3 separate regions of the Homo sapiens genome follow, and all the other regions are linked to region 2. Evidence: fine-mapped QTL for protein levels in blood plasma. A gene starts in region 2. Each other region holds a variant in brackets. All regions are shown on one strand. Distances are from middle to middle.

Region 1 (2,853 bases), 530 kb before region 2:
AATATATATATATATATATTTTAAGAAAAAATATTTGTGCAGATTATTTATGTAGATACCAGCTCTCCTTTCTTGACTGATTAGCTTCTAAGTTCCATAAAGAATCCACTGTCCCATGATAACCTTTTTTACTATGTCACTAAACAAAACCAATAAATTCCATCATCATTCTATCAATTACATAAAACTAAATGCAAATGAAAGTTTAAAATTTTTCACCAAAATATACTTAGAAAAGCAACTTTACAAAAATGGAATGATTTTCCACATTTCCTACTATTTGAAGGTGCTTCTTAGAGTAAATGGTTGAATGTATGTATAATAAATCACGATTTGTGAGCATATTTAATCATTTTTATATTACAATTATTTTTAATATGAATCACTCAATAAATTATCACATAATGAATTAAGGAATAATAAAAAAGCATTTATTACTTGCAAATATGTATAGTGTCATGAGTAAAGAGAATTAACAGACTTGTTAAACGCCACCTTAGCGAGTTATGGTTTCTATAGTGCTCAATAAAAACAGATGCCAAATCTAATTCAATTTAATTAAACATTTCTAAGAATATTTTGGAGTATATTAAATTTTGAAAATGCTAAAAATTACTCATTGGCTCTAGGCACAAATAAACAGTATGTCTCATATATTTCAGGAAACGGATAATAATATCTGACTTCTCAATTTTCATGAGAAGCAAAACGGAATGTGCTATTAAAAGCCTTAATGCTGCATGTGTTGCAGCTGCCAAATTCTAAAATTTCAAATTAATGACTGTACAATAAACATTAAAATAATAAGCAAAATAATTAAGAGTGAAGCTTACATATGGCTTATATGCTTTTAACTAGGCTTTTAGAGTTTGCAAAGACCAAGAGCTGCAGCACTAATTTCATTGAGAGATTTTTTAAAAATTAGTGTTCTTCAGAGAATCTAGATGAATATTCAGAAACAGTTAAGCATGCTAAGTAAACTTTCATATAAGAATGTTTTTTAAAATTGTGTTTGAAATGTAGCCAACACTTTGGTGTTGATTCTCCCTTAGACAGTGTCAATATTTTTTAAATAAACCTAAAATGTTTGAAATTTATCTATTTGTATACTTTGTAATGAAATTAAACTTACTGCTAAGTTTCTTTATCAAAGTTTTTAGAACTCTTTTTAAATGTTCATATTATAATATTTTTGATAAATATACCTGAATTTCTAGCATCTTAAGAATTTTAAATGATCAGGCCAAGCACAGTGGCTCATGCCTGTAATCCCAGCACTTTGGGAGGCCAAGGCGGGCGGATCACCTGAAGTCAGGAGTTAGAGACTAGCTTGGCCAACATGGCGAAACCCCGTCTCTACTAAAAATACAAAAATTTTCC[A/T]GGTGTGGTGGCATATGCCTGTAGTCCCAGCTACTCAGGAAGCTGAGTCAGGAGACTTGCTTGAACCCGGGAGGCAGAGGTTGCAGTGAGCAAAGATTGCACCATTGCACTCTAGCCTGGGTGACAAGAGCAAAACACTGTCTCAAAAAAAAAAAAAATAAATGATCAACAATGACTTGGCTTTTATTGTTATACCTTCTCTTGGAAAAGTGAGCAAAACTGCCTTTGACGGTAAGAAAAAAATATTTTTTTCTTTTGAACTTGAAAACATTTTAGAGAAGAGATAGAGTAGATGATAATTGAGTCACTAATAATATCTAGATGCCTTAGCTGCAGAGAACAATCAACTCCCAGACTTTTTTATAGCTATCTTCTCAAGGATGCAAAGATATTCTGGCCTATCTGTAACACTTACTCTGAGGATAAGGCAACATCAACTAGAACATTTGCTACTTAAGATATGTTATTATTGAGAACTTGGGTCTCTCAAACTGATGTTTCAGAAGGTTGCCTCTTGCTCAACAAGAACAAAATGTCAGGACTTTCTCTGGGGCTCGATGCTGTTGGCCATGAAGAGTGTCCAGGGACTGACCAGGTGCAGGCTCTGTGCCAAGCAGGCCACAACATGAATCCAGCTTTGCTGTCACTAGTCCACCATCCATTCCTGCCTAGGGAGAGCAAAGTTGGGAATTCAGTAAGAAGTTACAGATAAAAAGGGGGACTGCTATGGCAACAAAAAATGCTGGAGTTCTGTTCTCACACACTCTGCATAAATGTCACAGGAGAGGGGCTCAAAAACCACTTCTCCCATGGCCTGTGTGGGACACAGGGACTTAAGACGCACATGGAGACGACTCTAGGTGGAGCTCAGACAGTGAACAGAGAGGGCTATGACTGGAAGGGGTTGCGTTCTCCCTATGGCAGGGCACAGGGTGTGCTTTCTACTGGCCAACTGTGGATCTCCTGAAAGAGATCCAAGGTGAGCCATCACCGACAGATCCTATGGCATTGAAGAGGACTGCCTGGGTGCATGACACTGACAAGAGCTGCTGCGTAGGGGCTGAGTGGTAGTCACCTGCCTCCACCTGGAGGAGGTTTCACCTGACTCAGAAAATTACCAGTTTCCCTGGCTGGGAAGTCTAAGAAATCCACCAGAGCCTTTACCTAAAAGGCAGCTTTTAATTCTTTTGGAGATTTGTGAACATATTGGAAATATGATTATTATTAATAAGTTGATAGAAACTTTATACCTCCTGGCATTCTCTCATTCTTAATTTGAAGCTCAAAAAGGGAGCTCTTTATTTTCCTCTACTGAACTAAGAATTCCTTTTGTGTGTTTGCCATTTCAGCAACCTTGCCAAGATATCTGTCACCTCCTAATTTCTTATCTTCACTCTCTTCCTCTCTCCGTGGGGTCTCCAATGTCTCCAAACTTTTGTTGGTCTCTACATAAACTTAAAAGAAAAAAAGCAA
Region 2 (2,592 bases):
GTTTTGTCTTCCATGAACATGACACAACCCACAAAATATTTATTATAGAGCAGGAAACCTCTTTAGTCTGCATCTTTCAGCATTTTTCCTTTTCTTCTTTTATTTTTTCTTAAATTTTTGAATTTGTCGTCTTTTTCTTTCTTTAAAAATAGACCCTAGAAACAGATCCTTTTCTTCTTTTGTGGTGATTTGCCCTTCTAATTATCTAATTATGACTTAATTTAATCTAAATAAATCTAAATGTTTGGGTTTATTATCTGAATATTAAAGATGAGAAGATAGGATTTGAACTCAGACCTGTTTGACTTCCAAATTCTGGTTTGCCCTACTATCCCGTAATGCCTCCTAGATGCCGATTAGTCTAAGCGGCTGCTCCACAAGGCTTTTAAGCATTCAAGAACTCTACTGGACCATTTGAGGGTCTGTTCTGGAGACAGACAGTGCTTCAAGTGCTGAGGGCTCAGGACTTCACCCTCCCAGGAGGTACACACAGTACAAAGCCTAACAATTTGTCAGCACATAATCAATTGAAACCACACTCTAAAGTTAAATTAGTTCCTTCCAAATGGGGCAGACACGTGCTGACCAATTAAGAGGCCCAAAGACTTGGGAGTAGAGGATGAATAGGAATAAATTGAGAAAGTATGCAGGAAAATTATTGAAGGAAGAATGAAGACGAGAATTCTCAATGCTAAGTTCTGGAAGATGCTGGAAGAGAACTGAATCCAAAACAAATATATTTATGTCAACTCATCATTGCTTACATTTTCTAGTCTAACAGAGCAGAACCATGAAATTGTTTGAAAAGTGAAAAGCCTCTTCTAAGTATACAAGCAGGGAGAGCATTAGGAATCGTAAATTAAAAGGACACAGGTCCTAGCAGAGAAGCAATGAAGCATTGGGGAAGAGGGTTTCTGGGGAATTTATGTGAACTTACAGAACTGTGGTCTGCTGTGGTACCTGAGGAATGTGGTCCAGCATCAAGTGCATGCAGCGGACGGTGCTCTTAAAGCAAAGGCACCGGCTGGGGCAGGGCAACCCTGGCAGGCACCACCCGGCCAGGAGAAAGAGAGTGGTCCAGCAGAACAGTCTGGGCTCCATCGCTCCATTCGCTGCTGGCCACGCGAAGAAGCAGCCGGAGGGAGAGCAGCAGCTGCAGCTGCAGCAGCAACCGCAGTGGTGGTGATGGTGGCTGCTGGACTGAGCCAAGTTTGGGAGCCGTGGTGGAAAGCAGCTCCCAGGGAAAGGACACCCCTCTGACCAATCCAGGAGGAGGGATATCACATTACAGGGCTGAGGGCACAAGCAGCTCTAGGAAGCACTAGACTCCCAGAGGCGAGGACGAGAAGCTTTTCAATGCAAAAGCCTCTTTCTAAAACACCGTGTTTTAGGCAGCATAATGCAAACAAACTTTTCCAAAATTACTTCCACTGCGCATTTGATGAAAAACCCGACCTCTTAGCCTCCAGCTGTCCTCTTGAAGCCCAAGTTGATTAAGAATGTATTGAAACAATGCAGAACAGCTTTTCTTCTTTTTTATCTGGTAACATTACCAAACCCTAAAGGGCAGGCAGAGTTCTAATTCGTTCATCTAGGTGCACATATTCTTTCTTTATTCCAAACTATGCTCTTTAATAAAAATTGTTTCATTTCCTTCTATATATTCTGCTGCTGAAACCCAACACATTTCACTCATGTAAGACTCAAACGGGCTACTTCTGATTTCTTCTTTTAACGTTTAAATTTATATGCTTAAAACCATGAACTCACATACCTCCTTCAAGAGGATACAACTGATGGACAAACCTAAGTATGTATATGTAAAGTCAAACAGATGCAAGCTCCCTCAGGACACACTGGCAGCAGTGGTCTTGCTGGTTGCAGACTTTTCATCAGCAGTTTGAACTGGCCATCTTTCCCTGAAGTGAGCAGCACCTCGTTGAGGACGTGTCTGAAAACTTAATAAATATGAAAACATCTACTTTTTGGTCATTCTGTAAGCAGGTATTTTTAAACAGATTTTTGGCTTTATCTTTAAAGACTAACATTTTCAAACAAAAATGTTTTAAATCCATAAAAGTAATAGAAAACAAATTAAAACTTGCATGGTCAATCCCAGATGATCAGACTAGTAGACCAATCTTAAGAGGAAAATAAGTTCATCCTTGTCTCTGCAGAAATGTTTCAGTCCCTTTACATTCTACTGTAGGCGAATACTGCCCTCTTTTGGCAAAATGTTCATATCTAAATATGTGATTTTGGGGAGATTAAAATGTAAAAAGATCTAAAAAACAAAACTAATCTCCATGAACAAGAATGATTTATTTTAAACTTTACATTTGACATTGTTCACATGACTTTTATTGTCCAAGTATACCAATAAAGCCAAAAAACGAAATTTATTCCTTTAAATCCCAACAATCACTATGCTCTTGGCAGTGCCTGTGATTTGGAGGACATAGACAAGACCTGCAGGTTTGTGCCTTGTTTGCAGTTCAAAATATAAAATACAAAAAATATAAATAATATAAAATATATAAAATACAAAAATATAAAAATATCTTGCATTCATAAAGTAGACTTAAAAAGGGT
Region 3 (2,853 bases), 560 kb before region 2:
TGGAAATGTAAATTTAACATCCAAATGGTGATGTCAAAGGCACCGTTTGATATACGTCTGGGGTAATGGAGAAAAATCAGGGCTAAGAAACATATTTTAGAGTCATTGACATATAGGTGTATTTGAAGCCATGAAAGAGCTGAGATAATAAAAAGAGTAGGTAGAGAGAACAAGATCAAAGGGCCTGGGAGCAAGTGATGCAATATTTTGTAGATGAGAAAAAAAGAAAGACGAGCCAGGAAGAAAAAAAAAAAAGAAAGAAAGAAAGTAGATGGTGAAATATTTTATAGAAGGAAATACTGAGCATTTTGTTTTCTTAGAAGCCCAGGGAAAAAAGAGTTCAAGATGGGAGGTATGGTCAACAGTGTCAAATACTGAAAATCAGCTGGGTGAGATATAAACAGAGAAGTGAACATTGGATTTGACAACACAGAAGTAAGGTCAGAGCCTGACTAGAGAGAATTGAGAAGAGAACATGAAGTAAGGAAATTATGATAGTGTCTGTAGAAAATTCTTTCAACAAATACACATTATCTTGTTATTCTTGTTAGTCTAGTAGAGAGACGAGACAATATCTAGAAACCTATGTGGCATCAAGGGGTCAGGAGACAGTTTAGTTTTAAAAGAACACATGATTTTATGCTGATATAACTAAAACAGTAAAAATAGAGATACGCTTATGCAGGGGAAAGAAGAGATAACTGGCAATAATTTAATATTTGAGAAGTAAGACCAGATGAGATCTAGTACTCAAGTAGAGGTGGATCTTTGGTAGGATGTTTGGTAGGAACTAGAACAGTTTATTTTTATAACAAGAAAATAGAAAATAGGGAGTAAGAAATATAGTAAGAAAATATGACCAGATTGCTTGGTCATATTTGAAAGATTCCAAATATCCATTTGAATTCTGTGATCATGAATTTGAGTTAGACTCTTTAGCACTATCTTGTCATGTTCTCAGGCAGAATAGGAGCTAGATGAAGCCTGCAATCTTTGATTTTCTGTCAAAGTAATTTAACCGGAGAAAGAAGTGAGAGAACCAAGAATGTCTGCAAAAGATAAATTATAGCAATGTACCATGAAATCCAGGCTGGCCAGGGAGGGTTTGACAGCACAACAGGGCAACTGACAATGAGAAAAAGAAGTGGTGATGCAGTTTTGTTGTTGGTGATGAGGTTAATGATATAATACGGAAATGGACTGGGTGGTGCTGCTAAGTAAAAATGTCGTCAGTGAGGAGATGCAATGAAGGCAAATATTATCTACAATTGTTGAAGTCACAAGGAATAGTGATAGGGAAATGGGAGGGGAGATGTTAAGCAGGATGTTAAACTCACAAATGAATGAAATAGAAATGACTAGGAGACAAGTAAATTATAAGTAACAAGAAGAGGTAGCAGAGGCAACATGAAAAGTTTAAAATTCAGAATGAAGACTTAATAAAAGGGAATAGTAACTAAAAAAAATTGCCATTTCTATACTCTATATTTGTAAATTTTTCAATGAAGTATATAAATATCAAATTTTCTTCCTTTTAAATTACCACCTTATAGCCATAGAAATATAGATGGCCTATAACAAATA[C/T]AGGTTTTAAAAAAACCCACAAAACTAATGCAAATTCACCCCATAGAGTGTTTAGCTTATTAAATATATGTACACTGAAAAAACTCAAAATCTTCTCTATATCTTCAAGTAAGTTGGTAATCTTTTTTTCTGTAAAGGGTAAGAGAGTAAATGTCTTAAGTTTTATAGGACATGCAGGCTCTATGGCAATTACTCAACTCTACTACTGTAATGTGAATGCAGCCATAGATAATATGTAGATAAATTTTTGTTTGTGAAACAATACAACTTTATTTATAAAAACAAGTGATGGGTTAAATCTGACTTCCTGGTCTTAGTTTGCCAACACTTGAGTTAGAGTCCAACAACCAACTTAATTAGAATCTCAGTTTTAAACTCTAGTGGATTATAAAAATCAATAATAGCAATGCCTTTATATCTATGTCTCTAAATATATATTTAAGTGGAAGTATTTGGAATTGAGTATTGAACTATGAATATTTTGCCTTAGAAATATTTGAAATTTTGGAGATTAAAGACGACTGAGTTATGCATAGTTGCTCAGCATTCTAAAGACACAGCATGTAGACAAATTCAATATAACATACTTATCATCAACTGGGTGCCGTGGCTCATGCCTGTAATCCAGCACTTTGAGAAGCCGAGGCAGGCGGAATACAAGGTCAAGAGATCAAGACCATCCTGGCCAACATGGTGAAACCTCGTCCCTACTAAAAATACAAAAATTAGCTGGGCTTGGTGGCATGTGGCTGTAGTCCTAGCAACTCGGGAGGCTGAGGCAGGAGAATTGCTTGAACCCAGGAAGCAGAGGTTGCAGTGAGCCGAGACTACGCCACTGCATTCCAGCCTGGTGAATGTTACCTATATGTATTTCTTCAAAAGATAAAATAAGACAAAAGATGTTTGAGGAAAAAATTATCATACTAGTTGCTCTTAGAAGAGTTCATTTAAATAAAATTTTTAGATAAAATTGTACATCCATCATTCATGATTACAAGATGAAATAAAAATGAAGTTAAGATAAAAATGGCTTAGGGTAACTTCCAGTTTCCAGTCTGGCATCTAAGGGCTCCAAAAGTTATCACTTCCATCTCTACAAGAAGATAAAGGAAACTGAACAAATTGAAAATCATCAATTCCTTTTATATCTATCTGATAATTGAAGTCACAAAGTCAATCACTGTCTCCCATAATTAGAGAGACAAAGCAAACTAACACAGGAATACAAAAACAAAATACTGCATGTTCTCACTTGTAAGTGGGAACTAA

Direction of the effects. Alleles are on the strand shown, and positions count from the first base shown. The strength of an association depends on the size of the effect and on how common the allele is.
With allele T in place of A in region 1, the plasma level of the protein whose gene starts at base 1,202 in region 2 is lower (weak association).
In carriers of allele C in region 3, the plasma level of the protein whose gene starts at base 1,202 in region 2 tends to be higher than with T alone (moderate association).

Evidence for each region. PIP is the posterior inclusion probability: the model's chance that the variant is causal. The UK Biobank Pharma Proteomics Project read protein levels with antibody pairs (Olink). The fine-mapping took linkage between variants from a reference panel, not from the people measured, so its PIPs are less certain.
Region 1: its variant is fine-mapped to the plasma level of the PXDNL protein (UK Biobank, PIP above 0.99).
Region 3: its variant is fine-mapped to the plasma level of the PXDNL protein (UK Biobank, PIP above 0.99).

The regions. Positions count from the first base shown.
Region 1 is chr8:51,279,396-51,282,248 of GRCh38, forward strand. No RefSeq gene overlaps it. Among named protein-coding and RNA genes, the nearest start is that of PXDNL, 530 kb to the right of the region's middle. The variant A/T (reference allele first, on the strand shown) is at 1,381.
Region 2 is chr8:51,808,244-51,810,835 of GRCh38, forward strand. PXDNL (peroxidasin like) reads right to left here and starts at 1,202. Exons shown (of 23, transcript NM_144651.5): 1 at 938-1,202. The coding sequence starts at 1,101. RefSeq lists enhancers at 575-1,097, 1,098-1,619.
Region 3 is chr8:51,243,377-51,246,229 of GRCh38, forward strand. No RefSeq gene overlaps it. Among named protein-coding and RNA genes, the nearest start is that of PXDNL, 560 kb to the right of the region's middle. The variant C/T (reference allele first, on the strand shown) is at 1,585.